7 linked regions of the Homo sapiens genome follow. The protein of the gene in region 2 purifies or fractionates together with the protein of the main gene of each other region. This does not show direct contact. Each region holds a gene or a part of one and is shown on either strand. Other genes may lie near its edges. The genes, in order: DENND1A, EDC3, ZNF638, ZBTB21, LRFN1, SRSF12 and ALDH18A1.

The links.
Region 1: the proteins of EDC3 (region 2) and DENND1A purify together in Homo sapiens (affinity purification with mass spectrometry, with the first as the bait; one large-scale study listed by BioGRID). This does not show direct contact.
Region 3: the proteins of EDC3 (region 2) and ZNF638 purify together in Homo sapiens (affinity purification with mass spectrometry, with the first as the bait; one large-scale study listed by BioGRID). This does not show direct contact.
Region 4: the proteins of EDC3 (region 2) and ZBTB21 purify together in Homo sapiens (affinity purification with mass spectrometry, with the first as the bait; one large-scale study listed by BioGRID). This does not show direct contact.
Region 5: the proteins of EDC3 (region 2) and LRFN1 purify together in Homo sapiens (affinity purification with mass spectrometry, with the first as the bait; one large-scale study listed by BioGRID). This does not show direct contact.
Region 6: the proteins of EDC3 (region 2) and SRSF12 purify together in Homo sapiens (affinity purification with mass spectrometry, with the first as the bait; one large-scale study listed by BioGRID). This does not show direct contact.
Region 7: the proteins of EDC3 (region 2) and ALDH18A1 purify together in Homo sapiens (affinity purification with mass spectrometry; one large-scale study listed by BioGRID and IntAct). This does not show direct contact.

The regions. Positions count from the first base shown.
Region 1 is NC_000009.12:123,381,127-123,384,626, forward strand, and holds part of DENND1A (DENN domain-containing protein 1A), read right to left. Parts: intron 2,788-3,500; coding exon 2,529-2,787; intron 1,500-2,528; coding exon 306-1,499; 3' UTR 1-305. UniProt on the Homo sapiens protein: Guanine nucleotide exchange factor (GEF) regulating clathrin-mediated endocytosis through RAB35 activation. Promotes the exchange of GDP to GTP, converting inactive GDP-bound RAB35 into its active GTP-bound form.
Region 2 is NC_000015.10:74,633,542-74,637,024, reverse strand, and holds part of EDC3 (enhancer of mRNA-decapping protein 3), read left to right. Parts: intron 1-1,398; coding exon 1,399-1,616; intron 1,617-3,483. UniProt on the Homo sapiens protein: Binds single-stranded RNA. Involved in the process of mRNA degradation and in the positive regulation of mRNA decapping. May play a role in spermiogenesis and oogenesis.
Region 3 is NC_000002.12:71,348,782-71,352,281, reverse strand, and holds part of ZNF638 (zinc finger protein 638), read right to left. Parts: 5' UTR 3,328-3,500; coding exon 2,011-3,327; intron 1-2,010.
Region 4 is NC_000021.9:41,989,861-41,993,360, forward strand, and holds part of ZBTB21 (zinc finger and BTB domain-containing protein 21), read right to left. Parts: coding exon 1,035-3,500; 3' UTR 1-1,034. UniProt on the Homo sapiens protein: Acts as a transcription repressor.
Region 5 is NC_000019.10:39,310,864-39,314,363, forward strand, and holds part of LRFN1 (leucine-rich repeat and fibronectin type III domain-containing protein 1 precursor), read right to left. Parts: coding exon 3,068-3,500; intron 1-3,067. UniProt on the Homo sapiens protein: Promotes neurite outgrowth in hippocampal neurons. Involved in the regulation and maintenance of excitatory synapses. Induces the clustering of excitatory postsynaptic proteins, including DLG4, DLGAP1, GRIA1 and GRIN1.
Region 6 is NC_000006.12:89,101,072-89,104,571, reverse strand, and holds part of SRSF12 (serine/arginine-rich splicing factor 12), read left to right. Parts: intron 1-3,500. UniProt on the Homo sapiens protein: Splicing factor that seems to antagonize SR proteins in pre-mRNA splicing regulation.
Region 7 is NC_000010.11:95,636,212-95,639,711, forward strand, and holds part of ALDH18A1 (delta-1-pyrroline-5-carboxylate synthase), read right to left. Parts: intron 1,226-3,500; coding exon 1,076-1,225; intron 987-1,075; coding exon 882-986; intron 1-881. UniProt on the Homo sapiens protein: Bifunctional enzyme that converts glutamate to glutamate 5-semialdehyde, an intermediate in the biosynthesis of proline, ornithine and arginine.

The sequences.
Region 1 (3,500 bases), on a different chromosome or scaffold from region 2:
GCAATATCATTGGCCCAGCTGACCTCTTTAGTGCAAAACCCAATCAAGGGTGCCGAGGAGAGGCAACCGCGGGGTGGGATGGGCACTCAGGAACTGGGTTGATTCCCAGGCTGGAACTGGTGCCATTCCCCAGGGCCAGACATCAGAGATGGGCAGTGTGGAGGGGAGGAGGGGGCAGCAGAGAGGGGTCCCATCCCTTCCCACCAGCAGAACCTGGGCAGAGAGAGAGTGGCGGGGGAGCCTCGGAACCGCAGCAGTGGACGGACCCTCGGGCCTCGGTGCATCCCCCACCCTCAGGGCCCGGCTCACTCGAAGGTCTCCCACTGCTTCCTGAGCTGCTCCACCGAGTCTGGGGCCGGGGCCAGGGCCGGACTCGGGCTCACGTCTTGCTTGGTTTTCTGTAACAAATCCTCAAAGGGGTCTCTGGCCTGTTGAGGAGCAGAGGGCTGCAGTGTTGGCTCCAGGCCTTGAGGGGGCCTGGGAGGCAGAAGCGGGGGGTCTCCAGGCCTCAGGGCCAGCCCCTGCTTGGTCTCAGCAGCCCTGGCACTTGAGCGGGCCAGGGGCAACGTTCGGATCCTCGACGGGGCAACTGCTGGGGGACCCAGCGGCTGTAGGGGGCTCGTGTGGGTGCCCATGGGCATCTGGCCAAAGAGGTTGGGCATGGAGAGGGCGGAGAGGTTGGGCTGAGACCTGTGAGGGGCACAGAAGCCAGCACTGGACAGCAGGAGGCCGGACGCAAAAGCCGGCCCCAGGGAAGCTGGAGGGGCCCCGAAAGGCCCGGCTGGTGTGGAGACCAGGGGCAGGGTGGGTGGGGCTGCTGGCATGGATGGGACAAAGGGGTTGAGTGGTGGCTGTGGGAATGGGGTGGGTGTCCCTGCAGGGGGGAAGCTGAATTGGGGGGTGAATGGGGTGGCTACATTCGGGGTGGCGGGGCGTGACGGGAGGGTGCTGCCTGACCAGGCTGTGCTGAGCGGGTCCAGGAGGGCGAGCAGGGCGTCACTGCTCGTGCCTGCAGCCCCGGGGCCAGGGCTGAGCGGCTGGAGCAGTTCAGTGGGGCCTTGGGGGACAACACCAGGCAGGAGCCCTGGACTCAGGGCAGCTCGCCTGTCCCGATCCGTCTGCAGCCGCTCTGAGACGTCACCAAGTGCGGCGCCGGCAGCCTGGAGCTTGGCCGGGCGGGGAATGGGCGGTGGAGGCACGATGCCCAGCTCTGGGGTCTTCCTGCCTTGGGGCCGGGGGATGGTGATGCTGCCCAGAGTAGGGGTGGGCACCTCCTCCTTGTCACTGGGGTTCAGGATGCTGTCCCGGTTCTGGGGCCTTCGAGGCAGGGCCAGGGAGTTTCCGAGCAGGGCTGAGGGCTTCTCAGGGGAGGCAGCTGGGGGCTTGCTGGGGATGGCCATGTCGTCCTGGCCCAGGCTCCAGAGCTTGTTGTACGGGTGGGTAAGCTTCAAGGCCACTGTCACCCCGCGGCTCCTCTCACTCCCGCCCAGATCCAGCCTCTGTTGGGAGGGAAGGAGGGCGGCAGTGACCACGGGCTGAGTTGGGACATATGTGTGCCCATTCCCACACCACTTCTGTGTGCTGAATGTGTGCTGGGCCTAGTTGTGTGGCTGATCAGCTCCTCGGACTTGGAACAGCTGAGGGCTCCCCCAGGTTACCAGCAGAGGACCCACGTGTGCTGGGACTCCAAGCCTGTGCTCCGGGAACTCAAGACAAAGCTCTCGTCCCTTTATGCCAGTGGCGGTTGCCAAGGAGTTTTAGGAAAGTGACTCCAGCTACCGGCTGGCCCTTTTTACTTTTTAGATCGCAGGCACCCGCAATCACCTGTAAGCCCGGGGGCGCGAGTGAGACTCAGGGCCTGGTAGGAGGCACCTTGGCTGGGGAGGAAGGAGGAGGCCAAGTTGGAGTCCTGGCTCTGCCACTTGCAAGCCACACGGCCCGGGTGCCAGTCCCTTTCTCCTGGCCCAGGTCCTCGTTCCCAGCAGGGAACACTCATGAATGACTGGAGCTCTGTGAACCCCACGGTGTGACCCAGTGATGCAAAGTCAGAAGACCCCACTTGCAAGTGAGGAAACTGAGGCACCGAGCGGGGATGTGATGGATTAGACGTCACAGTGGGAATTACACACTGATTTGCATTCATAATGCAGAGCCAAGAACTTGCATCCACAGGCTCTGCCAAGGAGCCCTGGCAGGGATGGACGCAATCCCGGTTCCAGCAGGGGCTGCAGCCCTGCCTGGGGGTGCGAGGAGAGTGGCTGGCAGCACCCGCCCCCCCGTCTGATGCACACACAGAGTGGGGCAAGTTTCCATCGGGCTCTAGCATCTTCTCCTACCGTCACTGTTAGGGTGGTGTGGGCCCCGGCACCCTGGGAGGTGTTTACAGTCACACTGACCCTGAGCATTGGCTGAGGGTCTTGGAAAGTCACTGTTTCTCCCTTAGTCTCTTCCACTGTCACATGGGGATCCCACCTCGTGTGCGGACAGTGCCGGCCCCCGGCCGATACCCTCCCTTGCCCATGCCATACCTGATAGTCAAAGGTCCCTGGCTGCTCCCTCAGGTCTTTGGGGGCACGAAGGTCCTCTAAGCTCTTGGCCTGGCCCAGTGGCTGCAGTGCGGCCTCCATGTCCAGGTTGCTGAAGACGTCTTCCAGAAGGTCGATGCTGGCAGCCCGGTCAGGGGGAGCTGGGACAGGGCCTGTGGACTTCCGCACTTGCTGCTCTGGACTCTCTGCCTCGTCGCCTTCCGCGCTGTCTGACTCCCTGAGTGTCCGATACGGCTGCGGCCTGTCGGGGACAGAGCAGGCTGCACTCTCCCACCCAGGCCTTCAGGGGAGGAGCAAGCGGACTCCAGCCCAAGCACATTGAGGGCTTGAGGGGTGCACGCAGGGGCCTGCGGGACAGGAGAGTGTCCCGGGGTCTCCGTGAGGGCAGGAGTCTGGGAGGCTGCGAGGGTGCAAGCTGGGCATGCCGATGGGCCTGGGGCTGTGAACCAGGGCAACTCGCTTTGGCTCTCACTTGCACTCAGGGGACCCATTTAGTGCCCCCCAAACTACAGGTCCTTTCATAAAACTGGCTACTGGGCTTGTGAGCCATTCAGACAAGGTGTGAGGAACAGACAGGACTGGAAGGGGGCTCACAGGCCAGCAGTCATGCTCCTCTTGCTCCCGCCCTGCTCTGCTGTTTGTTTGGTGGCCTAGGCACAGCCACAGTCAGGTTCTGTGAACAGCCCATGGGGAACTGGGCTGGGGAAGCTCTCCAGGGGAGCTGTCTGGGCCTAAGCTTGCCCTGCTAACCTTGGTTCCACCTCTGGTCATGCTATTTCTTGCTGTGGGACCTTTGGCAGGTCACTTAACTCTCTGAGCCTCAGGTGCTCAGGTGGTGGTGGTGGTTACATGAGCAAATGCGGTGCCCGGCACACAGCAGACACGCACGGGTTGGTTACAGCATCCATCGCCCACCAGTGAGCACGGCTGTCACACAGGCTCTTCTGCTAGCAG
Region 2 (3,483 bases):
GATACTGCTGGTACACAGTCCAGCCAGGCCTCTAATCCACATAGGTCCATTTCCAGTGCCCATATACTCTACACCTTGCCGCTGGGTGTGTGAATGCCATGCTCTGCTTCTTTTGATTGGGGGTGGGAGAGGTTCTCCCTGAGAGGAAGAACCCTTTTAGAGAACAAAGTGAGTCAGATTCCACAACTCTGCAGCATCCTCTGAAGGGAGCAATTCTCATCATATTTCCTCTAAATGCAGAAATGGGAAGGCGAATGGTTTGGTGTCTGGAATATAGAGTAGATTGTTAAATTCTCCAAAATGTGTTTGGGAATGGGGGCAGTTATGAAGCTCCTCTTAGCTTGACAACATCTTGTCATCTTCCTCCCTTTGGGAAACCGGTAAGTGACTATCATTGCTCTGCCACTAGGCAGGGACCTATGGCCTTGCCGTCCATCTCCTCCCTACATTGCTGCCCCGTGAGCCAACTGTGCTGCCTATGAGTTGGGCACAGCTCTGGGGCTAATCCTCTTTATCTCCTTATTTGTGGCTTCTCTGAGTCTAGAGGAGTCTCAGCTTTGAATAGCAGAAAACTGGAAGTGACAACTTCATCCAAGGCAGCTGCTAGCCTAGGAGGCCAGGTAACCCTTGGCCTGCTGCCTCCGCCATGGTCAGCACTGACTGAGTACCTTACCTTCTTTGTGTTAGGCACTGCTAAGTGCTGGGCATCCGATAATCTGCACAGCATCCTATGAAATAGATACTGTTAATGCCTGCAGCATTGCTTTCATTAACTTCAGTAAGCTACTAAGCTCAGTAAAGAGAACCATTGGCAACTGACTGAGGAGAATGGAGAGCTATGGTACTTGCTGTGAGCTTATTAGGAGTTGAGGAGAGGTAAAGGCATGAGCCAGAGTAATCCCAGCAGAGGTAAGTCTTGAACTGGATCTCCAAGAAAAGGCGGTTCAGAGTTTGGAAAGTGAAAGGCTTTCTGGGCAGGGGATGTAGTTTGAGCATAAGCAGGAAAGAGCCTTACAAGTGCAGGAGAGGATGAGACCAGCCCTGCTGGAGTGAAGCAGACACGTTGGGGAAGAAGAGCAGACAAGGCTGCAGAGGAACTATTAAGTGTTCATGGGTCAGCAAAGCGGTGTTGTGGCAACAGTGTTGTGTGGAGCAAGATCTGGGTGAACCACTTAGTGGGAGGACCCAGCAATGATGTGAGGTTGGGGTTTGGGACAACAGGAGTGCCACCCTATAGACCTGGCCTGCAGTGGATTTTGTCCCCCTCTGGAGCCTGGGACTTGGTGAGCAGTGGGTAAGAGATCTGAGACCAATAGGTGCTACAGGCAATTGTCTGGTATAGGGTGCAAGGGATTGGCAAGTATGTAGCTGATACTGCTTCTTCACCTTCTTTTCCAGGTTGAATCCCAAAAATGTTCACCAGAGGCCTACAGTGGCTCTACTGTGTGGACCTCATGTGAAGGGGGCTCAGGGTATCAGCTGTGGAAGGCACCTAGCCAACCATGATGTCCAGGTCATCCTTTTCCTGCCCAATTTTGTCAAGATGTTGGAATCTATCACCAATGAGCTGTCGCTCTTCAGCAAGACCCAAGGCCAACAAGTGTCTAGCCTCAAAGGTGAGCACTTAGGCAGGGCTGGGCTGAAGGCCTCCTCCCTCCTTAGCAGTTTGATGGTCTCGTCATGCCACCCAGTGGCGACAGGTGGAAAGGCACTACGTGTGTAAGGATGGTGCTTCGCCTCTAAGGAGTCTTAGAACAGTAATATACTACTTCCCATCCCCTTATGCTTCTCCCTCTCCAACTACTCACATGAAGAGCTGGGGACCCATTGGTCCATTCCACAAATATTCGTTGAACAGGCACTCTTCCTGATGCTAGGGATATGGCAACAGATTTTTTTAAATCCATTCTTCTGTGGAGCTTATATTCTGGTTAGGAGGAACAAAAAGACATGTAACATACTTGTGTAGTTGTAGTAAGTGATGTGGATAAAAACAAAGCAGGGAAAGGAGGCATGTTGGAGGACTGGGTGGAGAGTAGGAGACTTGGACATTTCAGGGTCAGGTCATGATGGGCCTTGGGGATGACCACAAGGATTTGGGCTTTTACTCTGGTGAGATGGGCAGTCATTGAAGGAATAAGTAGAGAAATGATATAATCAAATTTAGGTTCCAGATGATCATTCTGGGTGCTGTTTGAGAGTAGACTACACAGAGGAGTACAGAGAAGTGTCAAGATGCTGTTGTGATCATGGGAGAGAGAGATTATGGTGGCTAAGACAAGAGTGGTAGTGCCAGAGGTGGTGAAGGTAGTTAGTTTCTAAATCAGTTTTGGAGATAGAATCCACAGACTGGATGTATGGGGGGTGGGAGAAAGAGAAGAGTTGGCAATGGCTCCAAAGTTTTTGGCCTCAGTAACTGAGGTGCGATCACTGAGATGGGAAAACTTGATAGAGAAGGTTTGGGGAGGAACAGCAGAAGCTCAGCTTGAGACACCTATTGGATATGCAGGTGGAAATGTTGATAGGGAACGAGTTATATGAATCTGAAGTGAAAGGATTCAGCCTAGAGTTACAAGCCATAGGGAATATTTAAGCCATGAGGAGCCTGGATATGCTGTCACATAGGAAGAGAGTAGATACAGAAGTTGGAAAACTGAGCTCTTTATTTAGAAGTCAGGGAGTAAAGAGCCTAACCAAGGAGATGGGACAGGAATGGTCAGTGAGGGAGGAAGAAAACCAGGAGAGTATGGTAGCTGAAAGCCAAGTGAAGAAAGGAGCATGTGGTCAGTGTGTCAGCAAGCCCCGTTCTAGGTTAAGGTCAAAGGAAGACAGAATCGACCACTGGATTTAGCATCTCTGTGGAGGCTCCTGGTGAGCTTGATGAGTGGTCTTAAGTGGAGTGGTAGGGACAGAGTCTGACTGGAATGGGTTTAAATGAGAACAGCAGGGAGAAGAATTGGAGAGAGCAAATATGGCCCAGAGAAGGGACTCCACCAGAGGTCACATAGTGAGTCAAGGGCAAAGCCTGGACCAGAAACTTCACCTGCTAAGTCTCGGGCCAGGCTCCTGTGGGCACACAGAAGATAGGATGCCACTCTCACTCTTGAGAGCCTCATCACCCACAGGGACTCCCCCCGGTGGCACATTCTAAGCAAGGAAGTTGTGAGTCTCTAGCTGAGAAATGCTAATACTCTAGGCTGAGAGCTGGGAAGGGGGCCTGGTGTGGGTTCCCCTTGTAATTTTTAACATGATGCCCCCTTCCAGGCAGTTCTTCCTCTTGCTGCCCAAAAGTTTTCCTATCCCAGCTGCTCCAGGACACAAGTCTCAACGACCATTAAGTTTGGTCTGATTTATGCTATTCTCAGTTTAACTTCTTAGGCCAGTACAGGATCTACATACTTGTTGAGACATCCTTTTCTAATACTGTCCCAGAAGCCTGGTTAGAGCAGAGGAGCCTGGGAGAATAGTAATAGGTTCCCTCTT
Region 3 (3,500 bases), on a different chromosome or scaffold from region 2:
GGTCTTGAACTCCTGACCTCAGGTGATCCACCTGTCTCGGCCTCCCAAAGTGCTGGGATTACAGGCAGTGAGCCACTGTGCCCGGCCCCCTCCTCCTCTTTATACAGGCATATCTAAAGCCTCAATTCAAGACCCATCTTCAACCTACTCCATGAAGTCTTCTCTCCCACATCATTCTAGTCAAGACAGACTTAGTGCATTTAGTAACTGACATTCCATTAGTCTAACTAGGCTATAAAAGTCTTTTGATGTCAGGATGCATATTTATACTTATTTTTAAACACATACTGTTACAAATACAATAGTTAAAATAATTAAATTGGCAAATTGGTAATGATTAAATTGGTAAATTGATGATGCTGGCCTGAGTGATACATGCCTGAAATCAAGACAGAAATCTCTGTCCCCTACAGCATATCCAAACAAGTTAAATCAATCACAAAACCACTTGTTGTCTTCTAATTGTTTTAAATGTCTTGGGAGCATAATTTTTCTCCCCAATAAGACTGAATAAACTGCTTAATAACATCTAAAATTTTACACAGTTCCTCATTTCTGCCCCAGTACCTAATTGGAGTCAAGTACAAAACTGGTATCCATAAGTACATACTAAATTAAATGTACACCTTTTCTACTCTACAGAATACAAAACTTCAAGTTCTTTATTTAAAGATGTATTTTCTTGGATTCATTATGATTAATTAAAAGTTCAAAATCAATTAAAAAAAATTATGTGGTATGCCCAGTCACAAGAATACAGACAAACACTCAATTCACTACTTAGGCCAGGGCTACTTACAGATTACAATTAGGTGATATGAATTATTCTAAGACTTTCCCTTGTAAGGACTTTGCTATCCCTTCTGATGGAATAAGGCAACTATTATTTTAATAGAATTTGGCACATCTGGCTAAAATGGGGTAGAATGCTGCTTTCTTTTGCTGGAGTTAACCTTAAGAAAATACCAACAGATCTAATTATCAGATTCATGTTGACGAAAACCTAGTGAGTAAATAATGAAAAGAAAATCGAAAGGCAGCACTGGAAGAAAAGAACAAGAGCGTTAACACACAGATTTTTAAGCCTAAGTATACAACCAATTCCAGGCCATGGCCTTGAATCAAAGCTTTTTCCCATGTTAGTATATTCTCTTCTGACCCTTTACAATCTAAATCTATAAATCACATTAGTAAATAGAAGAAACAGTGATTGCCAACCATACGTAAGTAAATAAAATTTACTTGGAAATTCCTGCTCAAATCTACCAATGATTACGACTGAACAGTATGTTCTACATTATAGTACACTTCACTGCCTCTGCAAAATACTTCCTTCTAACTATACTATCAAACTACCTAAATCATCTTTATTTTTTAAAGATTTTTCTCTACAAATTTCTATCATTTTACACTATTTTCTGAGTCCACAGCTGGTCCCAGAATAATTACTGCACCTTGACTTATTTTTGCTATGAAGTTATTTTAGAAAGCTTCTTCTCAAAAAATACTAAAAATCACTAGTCTACATAAAGTCAGGAAATATTTAAATCAACATTAATTGTCTTTATCCCAAGACAGGTGTATATGTGCAAGGCTATAATATACTGTCTCTTAAATGTGTGCATTACAAATGGGTTATACCATCTCTTTGTATTTTTATACTAACAGATCCTTTTAGAGAAAGGTGATTCCATGTGACATTGTCTTGTAAGTACGCAGCTTATGTTACATAAATTTTATGTTGCGTAAGTGGGATAACTAAAAGTTCAAAATAAATGGACACACTACTAAAATATGGTGTGCCCGGTCATAGGAATACAGTAAGCCTAAAATTCAATTCAGTACTAAGGCCAGGGCTACTTAAGATTACAACTATGTATTGAGGTTGCAATTAAAATTACCTTCTGCCATTTCCTTAACGCCTAGTTAACAAGCAGCATACATATCAGAATTTAGAGAAAACTGGCGCTGAGCATCATTATACAGTGATCTTTTTTTAAAAACACTCACCTTCAAATGACTACATTCTACGTTACACAGAGAACACAAATGTGGAAATATTCTTGGAGATGCTGCATAATAATCATTCATCATAGAAGGAGTTGGAAGTCTCTTCATCTTCTGGGCATCAGCATGTGAAAACTTTGGTAGCCAGGATGCTTTCACAATACCAAAGGGAGACCGAATGGGAATGTCAGCCTGTGACTGGTAATTCTTTTTACTTCCTCTTGATCCAACATGTACGTTAGATGAATTAATCACAGGTTCATGTGGGATCCGCTCTTGCTGGCTTACAGATGAAATTAATTCCGACGAAAAAGGTTGCTGGTTCATAGATGGAGGAATCAGAGATTGACTCATTGTCTGGCTAACTGTTTGGTTAATGGATTGGTTGACGGATTTTATGGGTTCAAGGACTGACTGTCCTCCTGAAATGTGTAAGCCTGACATCTTGGTTCCACTCTCAACTGAGAAAAAGGACCGATTATTGGAGGACTCACCGGGGAAGTCCATTTGGCGAAATACGTCTTCAACAGGAAACATAGAATTACATATCACATTTGGATTGGGAACAGATGCAGAAATGTTCTGCTGTGACTGAAATTCATTCTCGACCTCATCAGTTGGAATTTCAGGATCATAAATACGTACTTCAAGTGGATCTTCTGTGTAGCCATATTTGCTTGCATGCCCATAATCGATCACATTACTTGAAACTGCTTCACTACCAAGTGTTTCTTTATTTCTGCTCTGAGAAGGTAAATTAGGTAATCGGCGCCCCATTTTTCGCATTCTTATATCCCTCAAAATTAATGGCATATTTTCAGGAGTTAGTTGTTCATCAGGATAGCGACTAAGTTCTTCTAGGTCTTCATTAGATAATCCAAAACTTGCTAAGATACTTGAGGCACTCTCTTTTGTATAGCGGCTCTGTACTTTGGGACTCTGCTCTGTAACCTGTGTTACAGAACTCTGTTTCACTGCCACTGATGCAGATATATGAGGCTCATCATCCCACCGGCTACCATGAGGCTTCCCCTTCTTCTGTTGTGCTTCATGAAAATCCAGTTTTTCTTTGGTCAATCTTGGATCAGTTCTGTGTTGAGTTACCTGAACATTCATTCTCTGTGGCCCCATGTTCTGATAAGATTCATGGCCAGCAAATCTGTGTGGAATTCCACGTGCTCTCCCTGCTGGGTAAAATCTTGGGAGACCCATAGATCCAGGCCTCATAAATGGTCCTGGAGGCCTCATCCCAGAAGGGTTAGGTGCTCGTGGCCTTTGAAGTGGAAAGTCTCCTCGAGGATTAAACCTGGGTCTCGACATGGCTATTTTCAAGAAAGCCTGATTTAATAAAGTATAAGGTGGTGTTGAACCATGTGAGGCAACGGCATTCAGCTGCTGAAGCGCCAACTGAGTCTTAATCTGAGCAAAGTGCAAAGGAGATGGGCCCAACAGAAGTGGGTTTGCAATGCCCAGGTTCAAGGAATTCACAAGTG
Region 4 (3,500 bases), on a different chromosome or scaffold from region 2:
ATCTGGAAGTAAATGGTAATTTAGAATTTTACATCAGCTGTGCTAATTCTTGAGTGTCTGGGATCTATGTAAATATATGTCCCGACCTTATTTGTTACACTAATGTTAAAATCAAAATTAGTGCCATATGGTTAGCTTTGTTTTTTGTCCTAACTACACTCAGATTTTCAATTTGTGACAGCATAAATCAGAGGAAATGAAATATGTGCAGTCCTTCAAATGCTGGTCTGAATTTAGACTGTGGTGCAGTGTACATGTAACATGGTACAAGTTTTTATAACAATGTCTATCACTACTGAAGCCCTTATAAACTGACTGTAGGGGACTTCCATAAATTGTTTTCATTTCCCAGGTCTTCCTTAGAGTTTAACTATCATTTATTATATTGACTGAGAGCAAGTTTTTGTTAGTTTATAAAAATCTAAGTGTTACTATTGCTGATTTAAATTTCTCACAATTTTCATACAAAAAGAAGTTTTACATGACCACAAAATACCAAATATTTATTTTTATCAAGTGTCAGGATAACTTATTAAAGTTGAGATTTATCTTTTATTGCTAAAGTAGTCTAAGATATAAATCAATACTGCAAACTACTCCACTTCTTCCTATTTTGGACTTAAGAACATGGTTAAGATTTAACTAGAACTCAAGTGTCTAAAATAATTAAAAGAAGGAATACTTCGACAGTATTCCACTAATCAATAAAAAACCAAAAACCTCAATTAAATGATTATACTGACACCATGGAATGAGGAACCATGCACACAATCAAGACTAATCCAATTTCAACATTAATGAAATCAAACCATCTTGTTCTTGTAAGGTCCAGAACCACAATATTTTAAAAGCTGTATTTCTAAAGTTAAGGACATTACTAAGTAATTATCAATTTGCCTCCAACTTAATTTCAAGCGTAACAATCTCCAACCTTTATTATTCTTGTTTAAAAAATATTTTGTTTCTTATGACACATTTCACAATTCAGGTTGAAATCTGGGGACTGCCTCCCATAGGTAAAAAGTGTTGGTCTTTCAATTGTGTGTTTGTTCGTGACTCCAAAGACTAAATGCAGTCTTGAATGTCCTGTGGCAAAGTTTACACATAAACTGTCTTTTAAATGTGATTGCTGAAAGGGGTGGGGCATGGTAAAAAAGGGTGTCTGATTCTTGGGGCACAAACAGTTTTTCTGTGGCTGGAGTTGGGTTTTCGGACAGGCCTGTGGGGCTGTCAGGCTCCAGAGGCTGGATCTTGGGCAGTGGTGGTGGCGGTGGCAGAGGTGGTGGAGAGGGAGAGTTTGTGGGAACAGGGCACACCTCAGATTCCTTATGTGCCGATTCCTCTGAAGCCTGAGACATGTGCGATTGGAAGTGACTCCAGAGTCGAAAATTAGTGCGAAAAGCTTTGTTGCACACGTGACAAATAAATGGTTTCACAGAGCACAGAAGCTCCTGGTGACGCTCCAGCTGCTTATGCACCGTGAACATCTTCCCACACTTCTCGCAGGGCCACAGGCTGGCTTCTTTGCTAGGACCCGCTTCTTTGGGGGCTGTGCTGGCCTCGGGTGCCTCTTCTTCAGCCTCCTCCACAGGCTCCTCTTTGACTTGGATTTTCAGTTGCTTGGAAAGACTAAGGTCTTCGGGAAGACAAGAGGAATCTTCCGAGTCGAAGTTAACTTGTTCTGAAGAATCACTGAACACGTTGTCGTCTTTTGTGGTGACGATGTGGTTTACTTTGTTGGGCTCAGGCTGGGATTGGGGCCTTGAAGAACCAGTCACATCACCATTGTGGTCCAAAACGGGCAAAGAAAAGTTTTCGGTGGGTGCCATGTTGTTCTGATTATGGACTTCAACCTGGTGCCGCCAGATGCTGAAAGAGGACTTGAAGGTGCGCATGCACTCGAGGCAGGTCAGCTTCTTATACTCACACTTGCTCTCGTGTTCTTGCTTCAGCTCGGGCGAGAAAAACCTGAGGCTGCAGTAAGGGCAGACGGCCGCGTTCCGGCACAGCCGCTCGTGGCTTCCTTGCTCTAGGAGAGAAGAGAGCTTAGCATTACAGAGGCGGCACTGGTAAACCTCCTTGTTTTCTACTGGACTTGCAAGAGGAGCATGCTCTTTTGGTTTAGCAACTTTATTTACTCCAAGGGGTTTTTCTCCTGGATGCATTTTTATATGCTGCTTAAATTGAGAGAGAAAGCGGTACGCTTTTCCGCAGTAAGTACAAATGTAAGCTCCTTTGGCTCGAGATCTCAAGTTCCTCTTGATGACTTGCTGTGCTTGGGAGCTACTCTGTCCCTGAAAACCAGGCTTGCCGCGCCTTAACTTAATGATCAGGGCCTTCTTAATTTCTCTCTCTCTCACTATGTCAATCAGCTTTCTTTGGAATTTTTCATCCAAAACAGCATGTGAACTAGAGGCTGGTGATGGGTTCTTCACTATGCCGTGTTGGGTCTGACAGTGTGTCCACACTTTGAAGTTGGTGTGAAACCTCTTGTGACAGATGTCACAAGCGTAGGGCTTTTCTGGGTTATGGTACATGTTAACATGACGGTGAAGACCTGCTGTTGATCTAAAGATCTTAAGGCAATGTTTGCATTTAAATTTTTTGTTTGGTCTCGTCCCCTCCAACTCACCAAATTCGTCTTTATTCAAATCAGAATCTGGAAAATCTGCATCAAGGAGAGTAGGGCTTGAGCCTTCCTCAAAATTATCTTCTGACACAGGAGACCCGTGCTCATTCACCTTTAACTTCTTAAACGGCAATCTTCGGTCCGCTTGGAACCTCCTTTTTGCTGGGAGTCTGCTCATGTCTTTTTGGTCATCTTCTGTTTTCAGAGACAGGTCTCTTGTGACCGACGAAGATGAGGCAGCTGCTGTTGTTGCCGCATCTCCCACAGTGACGCGGATGATGTCCGAGGGGTCCGACAGCGGGCTGCTGGGCTCAGTCTTTATGCGCACCTCAGTCACAGGGGAAGCTCCCTCCCTGTCTGTTGACTGAGAAGCACTAAAGGACCTGAGGCGATGCGGTTGTAGCACTTGAGGCCTGTCATCTAGGGCTGTTTTTTCACTACAATCTTTTAAAGATGACTTCTGAGATAAAGCACACAACACATTCCCTGGTGCATCACTGGACACCGAAGATGATCCCTGGGAAGATTTCAAATCTATGGAAGGTGAATAGACAGGAACCTGGCTATCCATCGACAATGACCGTCTGAGGAGACTCTTAACAAGTGGGCCACTCCTGTCAATGCTTTGGTTTCCAGAACCAGATCCACTGGATGGGATCACTAAGCCTAACTTTGAATAGTACAACAAGTTTCTATCTTCACCTTGACCATTTCCTTTGTTAGTTTCTTTTAATAGATAGGGAGTCTCTGATGAGCTACAAACAGACAAAACAGGTGGCCGTGGTCTCTTCAAAGCCAGCTCTAGAGCTTTTCCTTTTGGAAGCTGACCACTCACACCTGGTTTATCATCCATAGCTTCTCTGTCTTGCAG
Region 5 (3,500 bases), on a different chromosome or scaffold from region 2:
CTCCCACCAAAAGACTTCCAATCAGGGCCCCGCCCCTTCATAAAGGTCCACCCACTTCTCCAACTCCACTCTACCCACCCCTGACTGCCATTTCAAAGACCACTGCCACCCACCCCAGCCACCCTCGGCTGCCCTGGCTTTAAGCCTTCCTCCTCCTCTCTTCATCTCTCCTCTCCAGAGCCCTGGATTCCACTTGCTCCTTCCCCTAAATAGCCAGTTGCTAGGGGCTTCCCCCACCCCTTTTCAAGGACAGAGGCTGGCTCCTTAAGAAAGCTTCAGCCCAAGTGTCTCTAATTGGCTGCAGAATTAAAGCAAGCAGCTAAGCAGGCTTCTGGTTGGCTGCCACCTCCGCCCATGACAGCGTGAGGAAGTTAACCCCTGCGGCACCATAGCATAGGAATCTGCAATGGGGGTTGGAGAACTGGAACTGGGGCCCTACAGGGAAGAGAAGAGTCCCAGGGTCTGTTGCCCAGCTGGGGACAGGGGGCCATCAACATCTGCATCCATGCAGGGTCTGGGGGCTTGTGAACCTCCCCCACCCCACCATGTGGTGGCCATGGCTCAGAGCAAAGGAAAGAGAGGGACAGAGAAGTGGAGAGTCACAGAAGCTCAGAATTATTTACAGAAATATATTATCCATCTCCCTTCCAAGCAGTGGGTGCCCAACAAATGTGTGTCAGTGTATAAAGGACAGCTTTGCTACTTTCTGTGTGACCTTGGGCAAGTGACATCCCCCACTGAACCTCAGTTTTTCTGTCTTTGAAATGGAGAGGGGGTCATCACGCCTTCATAGCGGAGCTGGGAAGATCAAGCTTGGAAGTTCGTTGTGAAGGTTTGTGTTTTGTTCATTTGTTTGTCCTCATGTTTGTAAGGCTGGGCCAGGATCTAACCTATCTCAGTAGGCCCAGGGCCCAACACAAGATGGGCACACAGTAGGCATCTACTCAGTGTTTGGGACCAGAATCAAAAAGAGAGGGAAATGAGGAAGACAGAGACAAAAGAAAAGGGAGGCTTTTTTTTTTTTTTTTTTTTTTTCCAGAGGGAGTCTCGCTCTGTCACCCAATGGCGCAATCTCCGCTCACTGCAACCTCCGCCTCCCAGGTTCAAGCGATTCTCCTGCCTCAGCCTCCTGAGTAGCTGGGATTACAGGCACGTGCCACCACATCTGCCTAATTTTTGTATTTTCCGTAGAGACAGGGTTTCACCATGTTGGCCAGGCTGGTCTTGAACTCCTGACCTCAAGTGATCCGCCCGCCTCAGCCTCCCAAAATGCTGGGATTATAGGCATGAGCCATCGCGCCCGGCCAAGAGGCATTTTTTTCATTCAACCAACACTGGGAAAGCACCTACTATGTGCCACACCTATGGCCAAGAAAACACTGGAAAGGCAGAGATGGAGGCCAAGAGGCAGGTTTCTCGGTGAAGATCTGACAGCCAGGAGCTGGGGCTCTCCACAGGTAGGGAAACAGCTCCAGCCCCGCTGGCATCTCCAGGTGAAGCCAAGCAGATGACTGAAGCATTTAACTGGTGCTCTACAATGTGCATGAGGGAGGCAGAGCTAGAAGGAGAGACATCCATGTGGCAAACTACCATTTATCAAGTGCCTACTGTGTGACAATTCTGTGGCAGAGAGCCATACTAAAAAACTACCAAGATGGGCCAGGTGCAGCGGCTCACACCTGTAATCCCAGCACTTTGGGAGGCCAAGGCAGGAGGATCACTTCAGCCCAGGAGTTCAAGACCTGTCTGGGCAATATAGCAAGACCTCATCTCTACTAAAAATTTTTTTAAATTAGCCCAGTGTGGTGGTGCACACCTATAGTCCCAGCTACTCTCAGGAGGTAGGAGGATTGCTTGGAGCCCAAAAGTTTGAGGCTGCAGTGAGCTATGATCATACCACTGCACTCCAGCCTGGGGTGACAGAGCAAGACCCTGCCAAAAAAAAAAAAGAAAAAGAAAAAAAAAAACTACTGAGATGGAGAGACATGGCAAGGCCAGGACTGCAACTCATAGTGTACTATGGACCACGACCTACTGGGCTATAAGCTCCCTGAGGACAGGGTCTGGGTGGTTTCCCTGTGTCCCCAGCACCCAGCTCAGGAGTTTGCACAAAGCAGGGGCTCTGTGCCTAACGAGGGCAGAGAAGGTAGAGACAGACAGAGAGGTGAAAGGAGAAATAAGGAGGCGATGGGAGAAAATAACTCTTTTTTTAAAATGTCTGTTGACACCGTATGGTCTGTCCCCACCAGGGCAATGGCTTCAAACCCAAGTGAGGGTGGAAATAACATATTTTTCTCATACGTTTTGTTTTCTGTTTCTGTAATGTACCCAATGTGTTGGTTCAGTAGTACTGGTATATAATTTATAAATATAAATGTCGCTGTAGGCTAGGCACGGTGGCTCACACCTGTAATCCCAGCAATTTAGGAGGCCAAGGCAGGCGGATCACTTGAGGTCAGGAGTTCAAGACCAGCCTGCCCAACATGGTAAAATCCTGTCTCTACTAAAAATACAAAACTTAGCTGGGTGTGTTGGTGGGTATCTGTAATCCCAGCTACTTGGGAGGCTGAGGGACGAGATTCGCTTGAACCCGGGAGGCGGAGGGTTTCAGTGAGCTGAGTTCGTGCCACTGCACTCCAGCCTGGGCAATAGAGTAAGGCTCAGTCTCAAAACAAACAAATAAATAAATGTCACTGTAAATGTGTGTGTGTGTTTCATGCTCCAAAATGTTTAACTGAAGAGGTGCACAATCAGATTGTTGTGGGGAGCAGTGATATCGACCATGAGCCCCATGAGGGCAGGGTTCATGCTGAGCTCAGTCACTGTTAGGACTCCAGTGCCCAGCCCTGGTCGGGTTCATGTAGGTGCTCAGCGAATATTTTCTATAAGCACGAAAAACAGAGACAGTGAGAAATAGAGAGAGGAGACAGGGCAAAGGAGGGCGGGAACAGCTCTCACAGCCATCTAGAACCCTGGCTGAGCAAGAAGGCCAAGGGAATGGGCAGGTGGGAGGGAGGGTCCCCCTGGGCTTGGGAGGAGGCCCTGGGACTGCAGCACCCGCACCCACCTGTAGACGAGGGAGTCATCAACGGAACTGTTGTACTGAACCTGGTACATGCGTATTCCGGGCACAGGCCTCTGGGCTGGCCAGCGGATGAGCACGGAGTTCGAGGTGAGCTCGGCTGCCACGAGCCGACGCTCAGCCGCAGAATCGTTGGCACCTGGTCTGCCCGGCGTGGCGATGTCAGAGGAGCCGGGCTCGGTGAGAGGCGGCGGGGCAGCCGGCGGGGGTGCCATCAGAGGCAGAGGTACCACGCACACCTCCACGGGCGCCGTCGCTTCCCCAGCAGCATTGGAGGCGATACAAGTGAAGGTGCCACTGTCCCTCAAGGTGGTGATGGTCACATCCAGCGTCCCGTCCCCCCGGACCCGGGTCCGGCTGGAGTTCCCCAGCAGCCGCCCATCAGGTGCCACCCAGTGCACCACCGGCTCGGGGTCAC
Region 6 (3,500 bases), on a different chromosome or scaffold from region 2:
TGAGCAGAAAAAAAAAGTAAAAAAAAATACATACTCAGCCGCGTGCAGTGGCTCACACTTATGATCCCAGCACTTTGAGAGGCTGAGGTGGGCAGATCTCGAGGTCAGGAGTTCAAGACCAAACTGACCAACATGATGAAACCCCGCCTCTACTAAAAATACAAAAATTAGCTGGGTGTGGTAGCCACGCACCTGTAATCCCAGCTACTCAGGAGGTTGAGGCAGGAGAATCACTTGAACCTGGGAGGCGGAGGTTGCAGTGAGCTGAGATCACGCCATTGCACTCCAGCCTGAGCGACAGAGCGAGACTCCGTCTCAAAACAAAAAGCAAAAAAAAAAAAAAAAAAAGGTGATGAGTTTTAGATAAATAAAATTTTCCTAAATGTGCCCAACAGTTTGTAATCTTCAACTTTAAAAATGTTTAAATGTGTAAGAAATACAATAAAATGTCCAGGTGCCATAATCTCAGCACTTTGGGAGGCTGAGGTGGGAGTATCACTTGAGGCCAGGAGTTTGAGACTAGCCTGGCCAACATGGTGAGACTCCGTCTCTCCAAAAAAAAAAAAAAAAAAAAAAAAAAGAAATATAATAAAATCCCTTGTGAAAGGTGGTTGACTAAAGTTAATGTAAATCAATTTACTTATAAAAGATAAGTTATCAAGAATAAATTCCAAGTATGGCAGTATTGAAGAAGACATATTAAATAGTAATTTGGGGGCAGGGGAAAAGATATTTTCAAGTTATTTATTTTGCTAGCCAGGAGTTTATTTCTATTAGAATAATAGTGAATCACAACAGAAATTAATTATATGGACCAGGTGCAGTGGCTCACGCCTGTAATCCCAGCACTTTGGGAGGCCAAGGCGGGTGGATTACTTGAGGTCAGGAGTTCAAGACCATCCTGAGCAATATGGTGAAATCCTGTCTCTACTAAAAATTCAGGCCAGGCGCAGTGGCTTACGCCTGTAATCCCAGCACTTTGGGAGGCCAGGGCGGGGGCGGATCACCTGAGGTCAGGAGTTCGAGACCAGTCTGGCCAACATGGCGAAACCCCGTGTCTACTAAAAATACAAAAATTAGGTGGGTGTGGTGGCACAGGCCTGTAATCCCAGCTACTTGGGAGGCTGAGGCAGGAGAATCGCTTGAACCTGGGAGGCAGAGGTTGCAGTGAGCTGAGATCACGCCACTGCTCTCCAGCCTGGGTGACAAAGCGAGACTCTGTCTCAAAAAAAAAAAAAAAGAATTTAAATTGATTGTTTCTAAATGCATTACAGCCTTAGTGAACCAGTTTTTTTCTCTTGCTTGATTTAAATAAGGTGGATATTCACATCATTTTCTGCCTTCTAGTGGAAGTAAAGTATAATACTTGACTGTCTCAAATCATCCTGGAGTATCAGGGATGGAAGGACCACATCTTTCAGGGCAATGCTATTCTGCTTTGTACTTGTTATAAGACCATTGCTTAACCTCCCTGACACCAGTTTTTCTCATTTTAAAAACTGTCTTATGGCCAGGTGCAGTGGCTCACACCTGTGATCCCAGCACTCTGGGAGGCCAGGGTGAGATCACTTGAGTCCAGGAATTTGAGAGACCAGCCTGGGCAACATAGTGAGACCCCCATGTCTACAAAAACTAAAAAAAATTAGCCACGTGTGGTGGCACACACCTGTTCCAGCTACTGGGAGGGAGGGAGAGGGTGGACTGAGGTGTGAGGACTCCTTGAGCCCAGTAGGTCAAGGCTGCAGTGAGCCATGATTGCACCACTGCACTCCAACCTGGGCAACAGAGGAAGACTCTGTCTCACAACAAATAAATAAATAAATTATTAAAATGTAAAAAAAGGTATTCTGTAAATCTTTGTTAACTTTATATCAAGGAATGTGTATGTTAGAACTCTAAATGTTCCTGAACAGTGTTAAAATTGCTCCTCAACTCCCTTTTCTTTAGTCCAAATATATTATAGCGTCCTTCTTTTACTATGTTAGGATTTTTTTTCAAGGACATTTTCTTCATTTTGCTTCCTACAGCTGTCTACAAAATGAATGAAATTTAATAATTTCTAAAAGACTGTGAATTTATTCCAGAATATATTCTACATCAATGTATTTTCAGTATAAATATATAATAAAAAATTCAAGAGAGGCCAGGTGCAGTGGCTCATGCCTGTCATCTCAGCACTTTGGGAGGCTGAGGCAGGTGACTTGAGGTCAGACATGCCTGGCCAACATGGCGAAACCCCATCTCTACTAAAAATACAAAAATTAGCCAGGTATGGTGGCACGTGCCTGTAATCCCAGCTACTTGGGAGGTTGAGGCAGGAGAATCGCTTGAACCCGGGAGACAGAGGTTGCAGTGAGCCAAGCTCGCCCCACTGCACTCCAGCCTGAGTGACAGAGCAAGACTCTGTCTCAGAAACAAACAAACAAAACCAAAAATTGAAGAGGCTCTACATGGTGTTATCATTCTCCAAAGAAAGCTTTTTAAATTTCTTCATCTAGTTCAATGTTACTATCTAGTATCATTTTTCTTCAGTCTAAAGAATATTTAGTATTTCTTTTTTTCCTCTTTCAGCTCACCGAGAAGTACCAGGGCAGTGAATATTTAGTATTTCTTATAGTACACATCTGCTGATAGTGAATTATCTCAGCTTTTGTCTGAAAACATCTTTATTTAAAATTCATTTGTGAGAAATATTTTTGCTGAGGATAGAATTCTATATTGGCAGTGATTTTATTTTTCTCTTTAAAAATGTCATTCCATTGTTTTTCTGATACCCATAGTGAGTTGTCAGTCTTGTGGTTGCTCCTTTGAAAGAAATTTGTCTTTCATTCTCTGGCAAGGTTTTCAGATTTATTTTTATTTTTATTTTTTTTTGAGACAGAGTCTCACTCTGTCACCTGGGCTGGAGTGCAGTGGCACAATCTCGGCTCACTACAACCTCCGCCTCCCAGATTCAAGCGATTCTCCTGCCTCAGCCTCCCGCCACCACACCCAGCTAATTTTTGTATTTTTAGTAGAGGCGGAGTTTCTCCATGTTGGCCAGGCTGGTCTGGAACTCCTGACCTCAGGTGATCCACCTGCCTCAGCCTCCCAAAGTGCTGGGATGACAGGCATGAGCCACCGCACCCGGCCGGTTTTCAGATTTTTTCTTTGACTTTGGTTTTCATCAGTTTCACTGTGATGTGCCCAGTGTAGTTTTCTTTGCCTATGTGGGGTTTATTGAGCTTTTTGAAATTGTGAGTTAATGCTTTTTGTTAGTTTTGTAAAATTCTATGCTATTATCTCTTCAAATATTGCTTCTGCCTTATTCAGTCTTTCCTCTGGCTTGTGTGACTGTATGCTATACATCTGCTGTGTTCTTTTAGGGATTTCTTAAAATTCCTTTTCTCACACTGTATTTCGGTAGGATGTTTTTCTAATGATCTTTTAGTTAACTATTTCTTTTCTTTTTTTTTTTTTTTTGTCTTGGAGGTTTTCTCTTGTTGCCCAGGTTGGGGTGC
Region 7 (3,500 bases), on a different chromosome or scaffold from region 2:
ATCACCTGTGTAAAATAACATCTGTGCATGTAGTGTACATGTAAAATAATATCCATAATATAAAATAACAGCTATTTTACATCTTTACAGGTAAAGGAATTTCAAAATAAAATAATTTGGGAGTTAGATTTTTTTTTCAGTTGTTTCCTGAAGTGACTGTTATTGAGATGTCTCTAGTGTGTAGTTGTACAGTTGATTAAGAATATAATTCAAAAAAATTCAGGAGATTTAGGTAAAAATGAAACAATGTAGAAAGAAGGTTCTAGAACATTTAGGGGTAGCCACCAAAAATTCGTAAGTCCCATGAGGACTGGAATCATGTCTGATTTGTTCACCACAGTATCCCCAATGCCCAAGACTGCTAGGTACACCATAGGTGCTCAATAAATATTTGCTGAATGAGTGAAAAACCAACCAATCACCAGCATTCCTCTTTCCCTTCAAAGCTTAATAAATATCTGCTATAAAAGGCAACCAACCAGGTGCAAAGAGAAGCAAGCCACCTGAAATCAAAGAAGCCAGTGAAATAAAGACATTTAACTTCTCTGTCTTCAGAAGTGTTAGCACTTGGAATCCTAAGTTATTAGTGTAACAAGAACTGATATTTACTGACAATGTATTATGTACCAAACACTATACTAAATGCTTTTCATATATTTTCTCACTGAGCCCTTCCAAAAATTATCTGAAATAGGCACTGATATTATCCCCATTTTCAGATGAGGAAACTGAGGCACAAAAAGGAAAAGAAACTTTCTTCAGATCTCAAGTAGCAAGTGATGAAGCTGACACCATATTCCAATAGTCTGGCTCCAGACCCCTTTGTTCCACAACAACCACCCTCACAGGTCCCACACCCATTTCAAAGCCCAGCCTCTCACCTGGGCAGCACAGATGCTGTACTGGGTAAACATAGCCTCATACAAGGCCATCAGCCCACTCTGTCCGGCAGCTGCACAGGCTCGTGCCTCTAAGACTGGAATTGCCTGTAATATACCAATGAGACAAGGTGTGGTAGGGAATGAGGGAAGAAGACCTGAAGATCCATTTCAATGTGTGGGGAAGCAGCACTCACCATTTCTTTCAGCTGGTTCTGCCCCGAGTGGAGGGCCTGCCGCACGCTCTGAGACAGAAGGATCTCATGGCGCAAGCGTTGTTTGCCAAAGGCTACGGCTCCACTGGTCACCAGCATCATCTCTCTGCCCTGATTCTGCAGCACTGATACCTGGGCATTGAGAAAGGAAAGGGGACTGTAAGTTACCGTACTGTCTCTTTCATCTCTTCACAAGGGATGGAGGTAGGGTGGGCTATCGAGTAGATCCCAAATGCTGGTTTATGAACCAGCATGTGGCTGGCTCTGGAAGAATCAGCCAGATTGGTAAAAACACAGATTCCTACATCCTGTCTCAAATTTCTATTTAGCAGGTGGCAGACAAAAATCAGACATTTTAATTTATTTTTTAATTAAAACAATTGGCTGGGCATGGTGGCTCATGCCTGTAATCCCAGCACTTTGGGAGGCCAAGGCAGGCACAATGCCTGAGCCCAGGAGGTTCAAGACCACCCAGGCAACATGGCAAGACCCAATCTCTACAAAAAGTACAAAATTTAGCCAGGCATGGTAGTGCATGCCAGCTACTTGGGAGGCTGAGGTAGGAGGATCACCTGAGCTCAGGGAGGTTAAGACTGCAGTAACCCATGATCGCACCACCACACTCCAACCTGGGCAATAGAATGAGAGAGATGCTGTCTCAAAAACAACAACAACAACAACAACAACAACAACAACAACAACAACACCCTAAGAAAAAAATTTTTTTAAGGCAGAGTCTTGCTCTGTCGCCCAGGCTGGAGTGCCGTGGCATGAATGTGGCTCACTGCAGCCTTGGCTGCCTAGGCTCAAGTGATCCTCCTGCCTCAGCCTCACAAGTAGCTGGAACTACAGGCTCATGCCACCATGCCCAGCTAATTTTTCTTTTTTAACACATTTTTGTAGAAACAGAGTCTCACTATGTTGCCCAGGCTGGCCTCAAACTTCTGGTCTTAATCCATCCTCCTGCCACGGCCTCCCAAAGCATTGGGATTACAGACATGAGCCACCATGCCTGGCCTAAGTAAGACATTTTTAATGAGGAAATTCTGGTGTGTAGCCAAGTTTGACATCTATAGGACTTGACTGTATTAGGTTGGTGCAAAAGTAATTGCAGTTTTACCATTGACAGTAATGGCAAAAACCACAATTACTTTTGTGCCAACCTAATATTTGCAGGGAGTGTGTAATGCAGAAGGCCTAGTTCCTCCAAGAAATGAAGCCCAGAATAAAAGTCCGCAGGTAGGAAATGCAACGCAGACTCAGTAGATGGCTTCTCAGGTTCTAAGGCTTAACCCGGGTAAAGGAGGCTGTTCTGGTGGCATGTCTAATCCTATGGGTTGCCTCTGCCTACACCAGGGGCACATGCTGACCTTGTTCTGCTCTGTCTGCCCAAGACCAAATGCGGTCACTTTGTTTCCTACCTTAAGCAGACCTACATGAAAAAATTAAAGACTCAAGATGTAATAAAGTCAATATTCCTAAACTGTCCTTTCCTTCTGATGTCTGAAACCTTTTAACTGGTCCAGCTGTTTAACAAACAGCTATGATAAACCATGATTTAAAACAATAATAACTTTTTTTTTTTTGAAACACAGTCTTGCTTTGTCACCCATGCTGGAGGACAGTGGCACAATCATGGCTCACTGTAGCCCTGACCTCCAGGACTCAAGCAACCCCCTGACCTCAGCCCCTTGAGTAGCCACCTTGGCTTCCCAAAGTGCTGGGATTACAGGTGTGAGCCACTGTGCCTGGCCCCGACAATAATATTTTATCACAGAAAGTTTCAGCTGGCTGAGGTGGGACGACTGCTTGAGGCCAGGAATTCGAAACCAGCCTGAGCAAAATAGTAAGACCCCATATCTATGAAAAATTAAAAAAAATAATAGCCAAGTAGCATGTGCCTGTAGTCCCAGCTACTCAGGAGGCTGAAGAAGGATCCCAACTGAGCCCTGGAGTTCAGGGCTGCAGTGAACTATGATTACACCACTGCATTCCAGTCTAGGTGACAGAGCAAGACCCTCTCTCTAAAATAAATAAAAAGAAAAAGAAAAAGAAAATTTAATACTTAACCAAAGTGCTGAGAATAGTATTATAAATCCCCATGTACATACCACCCAGTTTCACCAACTATCTCTCATGGCCAACTTCCCACTCTCCAATAACCCCTCTATACCCTCACCATTGTTTTAATACAAATTCCAGGCAACAGACATGTTATTTCATCTGTAAATAGCTCAGTAATAACTGCTAAAAGATAATCATATATATTATATATAATATATAATTATATGTCTTTCTCTCTCCACAAATCCATTATCTGGAATATTTCAATGATTTCCTTCATATCAAATAGCCAGTGTTCATATTTTTCCAATTTTTTTTTACCTTGCTCAAATTGAGATGCAAA